Linked DNA regions of Homo sapiens: region 2 is linked to region 1. Evidence: fine-mapped expression QTL. Tissue or cell type: whole blood. Region 1 holds a variant in brackets; the other region holds the start of a gene. All regions are shown on one strand. Distances are between the middles of the regions.

Region 1 (5,196 bases):
TTACAGGGGAGATACAGCGGCAGCCAGAATGCAGAGGTGGAAGGTAGATGGGAAGGAGGGGATACAGTCAAGAGATACTAAGGAAATAGAATTAACAGAAGAGGGAGATCAAGAGATTTGCTTATGCTTCTGGGTTTGCAGGACATGCCATTTACTGGGGCACAGAATATAGAAGAATTAGGTGTGTGTCAAGAAGATCCATCATTCTGTTTTGTACACGTTAAGTCTAAGAACCACCAGGTGGAAATGGAGGCAGCTGTGTATGCAGATGTGTGGGCAGAAGAGCCAGGCAGATGGATTCGGAACTCAGCAGGGTATGGCTGTGGTTGAGGTCATGCAGAGAGCATGGTGGGTGGGGGCACTGACGGCAGAATCTCCTAGAACCCCAACATTTAGGAGATGAGCTGAGAAACAGGAACCCTAGATTATCTGGAAGAGAAGCTTGGGAACTACGAAAGTGTTCAGAGGGAGGATCAGGCAGGGCACTTGTCAGAACAACTGCAGTCTGGGTACTCAAAGGAAGGAAACTTCTCAAAGGTGTGTGTTTCAGGCATGCAGATACATATGCATTTTTAAAGTCATTCCTTCTCTTAAGTTTGGAATATTGAGGAAAAACTCTTTCACATCAACCCTGGTGCCACCAGGCGACCTGGCCCAACCCTTCACTGTTGTCCAAGTGCGTCAGGAGAAGCCACCTGGCCGGAAGGAGCCAGGTGGAGCAGAGGGCAGCCAGTCTTATAGTCAATAGTCAGTGATAAGGCCAGATGTGTGGCAATATCAAATAATCAAGAACTGGCGTCATCCCCAGACAGCATGCTTAACTGTCTTCAGTGAGGAGACAAGGAAGGGGTGGAGGGGTGTCTCAGATGCCTGGGAGGGGAAATGGGAGGGAGCTCGCATTTGTGGAGTGGGCCAGGCCCTGTGCTAGGCTCTTTCCATGTTATCTCCACTAACCCTCCCAACAGCCATGCCTGTTTCAAAGATAAGACAGATGGGGCTCCAAGAGGTTAAATAATGTGCCTCAGGTAGTAACTGAGTGACCTAGGATTTGAACCTGGAAGGCCAAAGGCCATGCTGTCTCAAGGGAGCCCTTGGTCACCAGTTCAGTCAATCTCCCTGGTGAAGGTCCGTGTGCTGTAAGTTTGGGCATGGATACAAACCTTCCCATTGAAGCTTGATATGAGTGATGGCTCAGCGCCCAATCAGCAGCCAGATTAGGTGTTCTCCATGAGTGGTTTGGTGCTAGCACTTGCTTCCAAACCACACTTCCTGTTCATCTTTCACACCTATTGTCTCACTGCTGGGTTTCTTGCCAAATGCCTCCCTTGCCACTCCCAGTATGGGGGCAGAGTGACTAGGGAACAGCTTACAATGAGGAGTCTGTCAGACCTCCTTACTTTGCAGACGTCCTAAACACCTGATGAGCAACCACCAACTACTGAGGAGAGCCAATTTGCACCCAATTTTTGAGACCCTAAAAGACACTCTTTGAGCCTGATTACAGGTCAAATACTGGTAATAGCTAAAGGGTGGCTTTCTGTGTGCTGAGCCTTGAATTGTCTGCCTAACATGCATTGTTTCATATAATTCTTAAAATAACCCCATGAGGTGAGTGCGATTATTACACCCATTTTGCCTACAAGGAAGCAGGCTGAGAGAAAAGTGTCTACACCCAGTAAGCACCAGGAATGTCTGAATCAAAGGCAGGGAGAGGTGCCTGCCAAGCCCCGCACTTCCTTTCTCTCCCTTCCCCTAAGGCCTTTGGCTTAGATACGCTGATCCTTGAGAAATCCCTCCTCTCTCTTCCTTCCTTCCTTCCTTCCTTCCTTCCTTCCTTCCTTCCTTTCTTTTTTCTTCCTTTCTCTCGCTCTCTCTCTTCTTCTTTCTTTTTTTTTCTGGAGTCTCGCTCTGTTTCCCAGGCGTGATCTTGGCTCACTGCAACCTCCACCTCCAGGGTTCCAGCAATTCTCTTGCCTCAGCCTCCTTAGTGGCTGAGACTATAGGAGTGCGCCACCACGCCCAGCGAAGTTTTGTATTTTTAGTAGACATGGGGTTTCACCATGTTGGCTAGTATGGTCTTGATCTCTTGAGCTTGTGATCCACCTGCCTCAGACTCCCAAAGTGCTGGAATTACAGACACGAGCCACCGCGCCCGGCCTATTCAGGAGCTTTTACCCCATAAATCTTCTTACACATAGAAAAATAAAAAGTTCTGTCCCTTGTTACAGGTATTTTATATTATCAGTGGCGCCAATAAGGTGGGTGCATGTGTGTGCACACATGCGTGTATATGGGTGTGTGTGCACACCTGCATGTATATGGGTGTGTGTGCACACATGCATGTATGTGTCTGTGTGTGTGCATACACATATGTGGGGGTGGAGTAGGAATCAGGCAAATCAACCTCATAGACCTGTTCCCTGTTTCTGGGGTCATATATGGCTACAGTGACTATGTTTCTGAACCACAGGCCAGGCCACATGTCCTGGCCATTGCAATGGTTGTTGAGGGGATATTACAACAGTGAAACTGATACCTGCCCATGAGATACAGAGGCTGTTGGCTAACAGTTCAGCAGATACACTGTAGCGTGCTTTGGAGACATTCTAAAGGCCTCTGAGAGAGACAATGTCTTGCCAAGAGTTGAGGCCTGAAACTTGACAGCTGCCCACAGCCCATTTAAGGGTTAGTGTTACTCGACACAATTTTAAAGACATTGTCATGGAGGATCTGATATTCTCAGAACATTCAAGAGAAATGTTATAGCCTAAAACCAGAGGGGAAATCTGAAACCATATCTTCTTTTAGGGGCTACTATAGAATTCATTAAATTAATAATTAAATCTATGTATGTACATACAAAATGTTATGGACAACTGAGCCAGCCCTACACACACACAAGATGTCAGAAAGATTACCTCTGGCCGGGCACGGTGGCTCACACCTGTAATCCCAGCACTTTGGGAGGCCAAGCTGGGTGGAACATCTGAGGTCAGGAGTTCGAGACCAGCCTGGTAAACATGGTAAAACCCTGTCTCTACTAAAAATACAAAAATTAGCTGGGCGTGGTGACTCCCGCCTGTAGTCCCAGCTACTCGGGAGGCTGAGGCACTAGAATCGCTTGAACCCAGGAGGCAGAGGTTGCAGTGAGCTGAGATCACACCAC[T/C]GCACACCAGCCTGGGCAACAGAGTGAGACTTGGTCTAAAAAAAAAGAAAAGAAAAGAAAGAAAAAGAAAAAGAAAAGATTACCTCTGTTAAAAATACTCAGGCAGTAGAGATAGCAGCCAATTTTGGGTTTGCATGACATTAATTCAACAAGCATGTATTACTTCCTACCTATTAGCTCCCAGATACTTGGTACCACGCCCAAAGAAGACTGGGCCTGGGATTGCAGTGACAGTAGGGTGGCAGATGTGTGGGGGATAAGTATGATATGGTGTAGGGAGGGTTATAATACTGATGAGTGCAATGTGCTACAGAATCCAGAAGATGAAGAATTCTTGGGAGGGGTGGTGGTATTAGTTTCCTACTACTATGTAATAAATTACTACAATTTAGCAGCTTAAAGCAACAACAATGTATTATCTCACAGTTTCCATGTGTCAGGGGTACAGGTATGGCTGAACCAAGTCCTCTGCTCAGGGTCTCACAAGCTGACAATCAAGGTGTCTGCCGGGTTGCATTTCTTTCTGGAGGTTGAGGTCCTCTTCCAGGCTCACGTGATTGTTGGCAGAATTTAGTTTCTTGCATCTGTATGATTGAGGCCTTTGTTGTCTTGGCAGCTGTCACCAGGGGCCACTCTTATCAACTAGAGGCTTCCCTCAAGTCTTTGTCACATGGCCCACTTCACACATCCTCTCATAAGGTGGCAGCTTTCTTCTTCAAGACTAGCAGGAAATTCTCTTTGACTTCAGGGAGGATCCTAGTCCCTTTTTGTTTTCAGGGTTTTATTATTTATTTATTTTGAGATAGAGTTTTGCTCTTGTTGCCCAGGCTGGAGTGCAATGGTATGATCTTGGCTTGCTCCAATCTCTACCTCCTGGGTTCAAGTGATTCTCCCATGTCAGTCTCCTGAGTAGCTGAGATTACAGGCATGTACCACCATGCCCAGCTAATTTTGTATTTTTAGTAGAGATGGGGTTTTACCATGTTGGCCAGGCTGGTCTCAAACTCCTGACCTGAGGTGATCCACCTGCCTCGGCCTCCCAAAGTGCTGGGATTACAGGCATGAGCCAGCGTGCCTGGCTATTTATTTATTTTTGAGACAGGGTTTCACTCTGTCACCCAGACTGGAGTGCAGTGATGCGATCACAGCTCACTGCAGCCTCGAACTCCTGGGCTTAGGCCATCCTCCCGCTCAGCCTCCCAAGTAGCTGGGACTACAGGCATATGCCACCATGCCTGGCTAATTAAAACAATTTTTTCTTTGTAGAGATGGGGGTCTTCCTATGCTGCCTCAGCTGTTCTACAACCCCTGGGCTCAAGAGGTCCTCTTGCCTCCCAAAGTGCTGGGTTATAGGCATAAGCCATCATGCCTGGCCCCTAGTCCCTTTTTGAAGGTCTCCCCTAATTAGGACAGACCTAGCCAGACTAAACTCCCTTTTGATTAACCCAAAATCAGCTGATTAGGGACCTTAATTACATCTGCAAAATCCTTTTTACCATAATCAAGAGAGTGACATCCCATCATATTCACAAATGCTGCCAACACTCAAGGAGAGGGGATTATGTAAGATGTGTATACCAGGAGACAGAAATCTTGGAGGCCATCTTAGAATTCTGCATACCATGTGCGAGACGGGGAGAGGGAAGGGAAGGGGAAAGTGCCAGGGTGGGTAACCTTTGAGCTGAGTACTGAAGAATGAATTTAAGTTCTCTAGGCTGCCAAGAAGGGAGACAAGTGGGTAGGAGAAAGGGCAGAGAGGAAAGAACATTATGGAAAGAGAGATGGGGCCGGGTGCGGTGGCTCATGCCTGTAATCCCAGCACTTTTGGGAGGCTGAGGTGGGCGGATCATCTGAGGTCAGGGGTTTGAGACCCTGATGGCCAACATGGTGAAACCCTGTCTCTACTAAAAATACAAAAATTAGCTGGGCATGGTGGTGTGCACCTGTAATCCCAGCTACTAGGGAGGCTGAGGCAGGAGAACTGCTTGAACCCGGGAAGCGGAGGTTGCAGTGAGCAGAGATTGTGCCAC
Region 2 (5,115 bases), 100 kb before region 1:
TAGAACTCCTGGCCTCAAGCGACCCGACCACCTTGGCCTCCCAGGTGTTGGGATTATAGGCATGAGCCACTGTGCCTCGCCTCATTCTTTGCTGACCCTGCTTCCTAGCCCAGGAGCATCTCCACCTATGTAACCCTCCCCATCCTTTTGAATGCCTCTGCCAAGCCTTTACAGTGTTTTTGAAAAGACTCTGATGAAGCTTTTACTGTAACCATGTCTTTAATTTTTAGACCCCATACACTGAAATGATATTTGTTCATTCTTTTCATATCTCTACATATGCAACTTAATGCTATTTGTTTACTAACAATGGTCAACTTATTTTCCTACTGAAATATAAGCTTCTAGAGAAAAAGAGTGCTTCTGAACTTTTGTAAATTCACAGATCTAATAAATATTTGGTGATATGGACAACGCTATGCAATTTTTGGGAAGTGTAATCAAATTTAACTCAAAACCAACCCAGTAATCAAGTTCAACAGGATAATAATAAAAAGGCAATGGGCAAGATGTGAGACTTTAGTTCTAGTCCAAGATTTACTTGTAACTTAAGTGAGCAAGTCACTTAAGTATACTGTTTTAGTTTCTCTAACTAAAATATAGAAATAACAATCCTTATCTCCTCTTTCTCATTTTGAGTGCAAAAAAGAAAACAGACTACTAAGAATAACTAACTCTAACATCATACATTAACGTGGCATCAGGATAAAAAAGAACACTTAAAAATATTCTCTTGCAACCACTTCTCTCCTTCTCCATCTTTCAGCCTTAAAAGTATGCTGGCTTGGAACACACACCAGAACTGCAGATGGATTTCCGACGGATGAATCACCTTCAGCAACCCCAGCAAGTTCTCATTAAATGTTTACCCTAAAGTAAGATTTTATGATCAAATCTAGTGTATCGTTAGTTTTTGGAAGTAGAATAATCACTGCAGGGTTTTACACTAGTATATATTAACTTGGGATTCCGTGATCCATGGATCTCTCCAAAGGATGTGCATATGTGCAAATGTGTTGATGGAGGGGGCAAGATTACTTTGCTTAGGTTATCAAAGGGGTCCTTGTGCCCCCCAAATTAAGAACTAATGGCTTAGAATATACCAACAAAGTATTTCCCATGCATAAACCCTGCAAGATAAACACTGATAAAGAACCAACACACAAAGATCTTCCCAATGAGCTTCAAGAAAAGCTTCCAACTGAGTGATCACTGCTGAACTTAAAGATAATGACAAAAATAACGGAGTTGCCACGGGTGTGGGGATTTTGAAGCTATGCCCCTCCTCCTCACCCCGACCTTGGAGAACTATATATACAGCATGAGAGGAAGGAAGTTTTGGCAATACCTCACATTCGTATACCACTTTAATTTACAGAACAGAGCCTTCGTTTGATTCTCAAGATAATCTTAAAAAAAAAAGAAAAAGATGATTTCAAGGTATTATCAGTAAGCCCATTTTACAGATGGGGAAACTAAAGCTCAAGAGACGGTTAGGTGACTTAGGACAATCAAAAATGACTAGTCAAACCAATGATCTAGCCAATTTCTAGTGCCGGTGAGTGGGAAGAGTGGTGAAGACCCTAAGACATATACCCCGTGGGCGCCTAAAGCACTAAGCTCACGACGCTGGGAAAGCGGGGCCGAGAAGGAGGGACTCGGGGCGACCCGACAGCGCCAGACAGGGCGGCCGGCGCCGAGGGCCGCTACCTCGGTGCGGCGGTACAGCGTGGCTTCCCCGAAGGCGCCGCGGCCCAGGACGCGGATGGGGATGTAGTGCAGTTCCTCCTGCTCCGCCGCGCCGCCGCCGGCTCGCGGCCCCTGACTGGCGCTAGGCCCCGGACTCGAGTCCCCGCAACCCCCGGACTCGCTCCCAAAGTCCGAGTTGATGGAATCGCAGTGTCGCTCGTACTCGCCCAGCACCGACATGGCGGCGGCCGCGGGCCTTGGGGACCAGCCTGCGTATGCCCGGAGGCCCTGGCCGCGCTGCGTCCCGCTCGCTTCAGATGCCGGCCCGCGGATCCGTCAGCCCAGCAACCCCGCGAAGCTCGATGGTGGCTCCTGCCCCCCGACCCGGAAACAGTTCTCTGTGTTTCCGGCCTGGCTGAGTTTCCTCCGCCTTTGCTTACCCTCTTGGCTAGTCTAGCGGCCAAGGCTTCCCGCTTTCGGGGAAGGCCTGCAAAGTGAGGCCTCGGGCTAGGGTTGGCGGGCGCGTGGTGGGAACCGCGTGGAACCGAAGGGCTCCCACGGGAACAAGGGCATCACTGACGGTACGGCCTCTCGGGTCTATTGACCCTTCTCTGCCTCCCCGGTCCGGACTCATACAACTTGGAGGCCCAGAGGTCGTCCAGTCTCATCTTGACGTCAGGTCTGTGACAAGAGGGTGATTGGGGAAGCATTCCCAGTGTACACCTTCTTCCCCATTCCAACGTTGGACAGCATTCTTTTTTAGAGAGATAGTATAGTAAAGATAATATGGCCGGGCAAGGTGGCTCACGCCTGTAATCTCAGCATGTTAGGAAGCCGAGGCGGGCGGATCACCTGAGGTCAGGCGTTTGAGACCAGCCTGACCAACTGGTGAAACCCCGTCTCTATAAAATACAAAAATTAGCCAGGCGTGGTGGCAGGCACCTGTAATCCCAGCTACTCCAGAGGCTGAGGCAGGTGAATCACTTGAACCCGGAAGGAGGAGGTTGCAGCGAGCCGAGATCGCGCACTACACTCCAGCCTGGATAACAGAGCGAGACTTTGTCTCAAAAAAAAAAAAAATAATAATAATATAGACAGCCTAAATGTCTGCCTCCGGTCATCTCGGTCCCTGGGCCGAGTTCTTTCTCCCAGGGCCATCCTAAGTCCCTCCCTCTTCTACACAACTCCAAAAATATTTTAAGTCAACTCTCCTGACACTTTCCTTCTCCCCCGTCTCTTTTTCCAGATTCAATTTATTCTATGTGTTTTTCCAGATATTTGACCATATGATATCATGAAACATTCTTTGAGCACTTGGTGCCACACACTGTTTGGGAACAGGAAATCTGCAATAATGTTCTCCCTACCGTCAAGTAGGAAAACAGCAATACGGTGAACAATAGGTGTTCCATCAGTTATGTGACCTTGGGCAATTATGTGACCTTGGGCAACTTCTCATCTCCAAGCTTGTTTTGTTGTGAGAATGTGGTCTACATCACAGACATAACAGCTAACATTTATTGAGTGTTATGTTCTGGGTACTATGCTAAAGGTTTTTTACGTATTATCTCACATTATTATGTATTATCCTATGTATTATGTATTATGTATTATCCTAACATTCCCATTTTACAGAAACAGAGGTACCTAAGTAACCTGCTTAATGTGACAGACCTAGTAAGAGGGAGCTGGGAAGTTGAACCCAGCAATCTGAAAAAGCAGGATGTGATGGGGCTAAGAGAAAGCCATGTGCCTAGCCGGGCGTGGTGGCTCACACTTGTAATCCCAGCACTTTGGGAGGGCCGATCACTTGAAGCCTGGAGTTCGAGTTCAGCCTGGCCAACATGGTGAAACCCCGTGTCCACTAAAAATACAAAAATTAGCCAGGCGTGCACACACCTGTAATCCCAGCTACTTGGGACGCTGAGGCACAAGAATTGCTTGAACTGGGGAGGCGGAGGTTGCGGTGAGCCAAGATCATGCCACTGCACTCGAGCCTGGGCAACAGAGTGAGAACCTGTCTCAAATACATAAAAATACATTGTGTCATATCGATTTGTGAAAAGTTCCTACTTTAAGAGAGCTTACATGTAACAGAAAACCACCAGGCAATTAAAACAGTTTCTATAAGGGCTATTAAAGTGCAAGATTCTAGAGAGGCATTTAGGAGTGGCATCTGTCCAAGCCAAACTTGCTGTGTGAGTGCAGGAATATACAAAATGTTAAGTCTAAACAAAGTAGAGAGATCATTTCAGGTAGAGGCCATTCCATCTACATCCTCCTATTAATTAGAAGGCACTTTGAGGATAGGTATTGCCTCTTGTTTATCTAGATAAACTCCAGAGTTTAGTTTGGCTTAAATCTGTTAATTCTATTAACTTAATTCTGTTATTCTCGATTAACTCTGTTAAACAGAAAAGATGCTCAATAAATTGTTTCTCAGTTGAATGGGAAAAAACCAATTACTTAAAATTGGGAATGCTGACTTTCAAAGAGGCTGAATAGATTTCAGCCTAAGCTTAAAAATTCATTTTTTTCTGGCACCTTTGCAACGAGGAACTAGTTTTCTATAACGTGGTTGGCCTGAAACTGAATTGTTCTAATGATAATGCATAGATACTACAAGCCTAGAAGAAACATGTCCTATTATAGAGCAGAGACATTCCTGCTGAATTCTTCATTATATTGGATATAACTGAAACTAATTGTCTTACCTTTGAATATTTATAAGTTCAAAAATAGTCAACATTTATTCTAATGGTATAACTTTTTTTTTTTTTTTGGAGACAGTCTCACTCTGTCACTCAGGATGGAGTGCAGTGGCATGATCTCAGCACACTGCAGCCTCCACCTCCCAAGTTCAAGTGATTCTCATGCCTCAGTCTCCTGAGTAGCTGGGATTACAAGCGTCCGCCACCATGCCCAGCTAATTTTTGTATTTTTAGTAGAGAGGGCATTCTGCCATGTTGGCCAGGCTGGTTCTCGAACTCCTGACCTCAAGTGATTGGCCTGCTAAAGTGTTGGGATTACAGGTGTGAGCCACTGCACCTGGCCAAGGTGTAAAATTTTAAAGCGCCTTTGGTTGAAACCAAACTATTTCCACATTGTACTTTAACAAGTGAATGGTTAGAATGCTATTTTGCATTAGTTTCCAATTTGTGAATGGCAAATTCCCAGGGGCCATAGAGTTACTGTCAAGATGAAAGAATCTACCAAAGACCAACCCAAGTTTATACCCTTCACTGTCTGCCACGGTAGCCATTAGCTACATATAGCTACTCAACACTTGAATTGTGGCTAGTCTAATTTTAAGCTATAGATGCGGTATAGCTTGAAATGCACACTGGATTTTCAAGATTTTATATGAAAAATGGAATGCAAAACATCTCATTAACCATTTTTATATTAACTATATGTTGAAATAAT

The links. PIP is the estimated chance that this variant, and not a neighbour inherited with it, causes the effect.
Region 2: NEK9 starts here. The variant in region 1 is fine-mapped to the expression of NEK9 in whole blood (TOPMed, PIP 0.97).

Annotation. Positions count from the first base shown.
Region 1 is chr14:75,229,012-75,234,207 of GRCh38, forward strand. No RefSeq gene overlaps it. Among named protein-coding and RNA genes, the nearest start is that of FOS, 47 kb to the right of the region's middle. RefSeq lists a cis regulatory region at 732-1,287. The variant T/C (reference allele first, on the strand shown) is at 3,167.
Region 2 is chr14:75,124,993-75,130,107 of GRCh38, forward strand. NEK9 (NIMA related kinase 9) reads right to left here and starts at 2,056. Exons shown (of 22, transcript NM_033116.6): 1 at 1,711-2,056. The coding sequence starts at 1,929. RefSeq lists enhancers at 1,920-1,969, 1,980-2,109.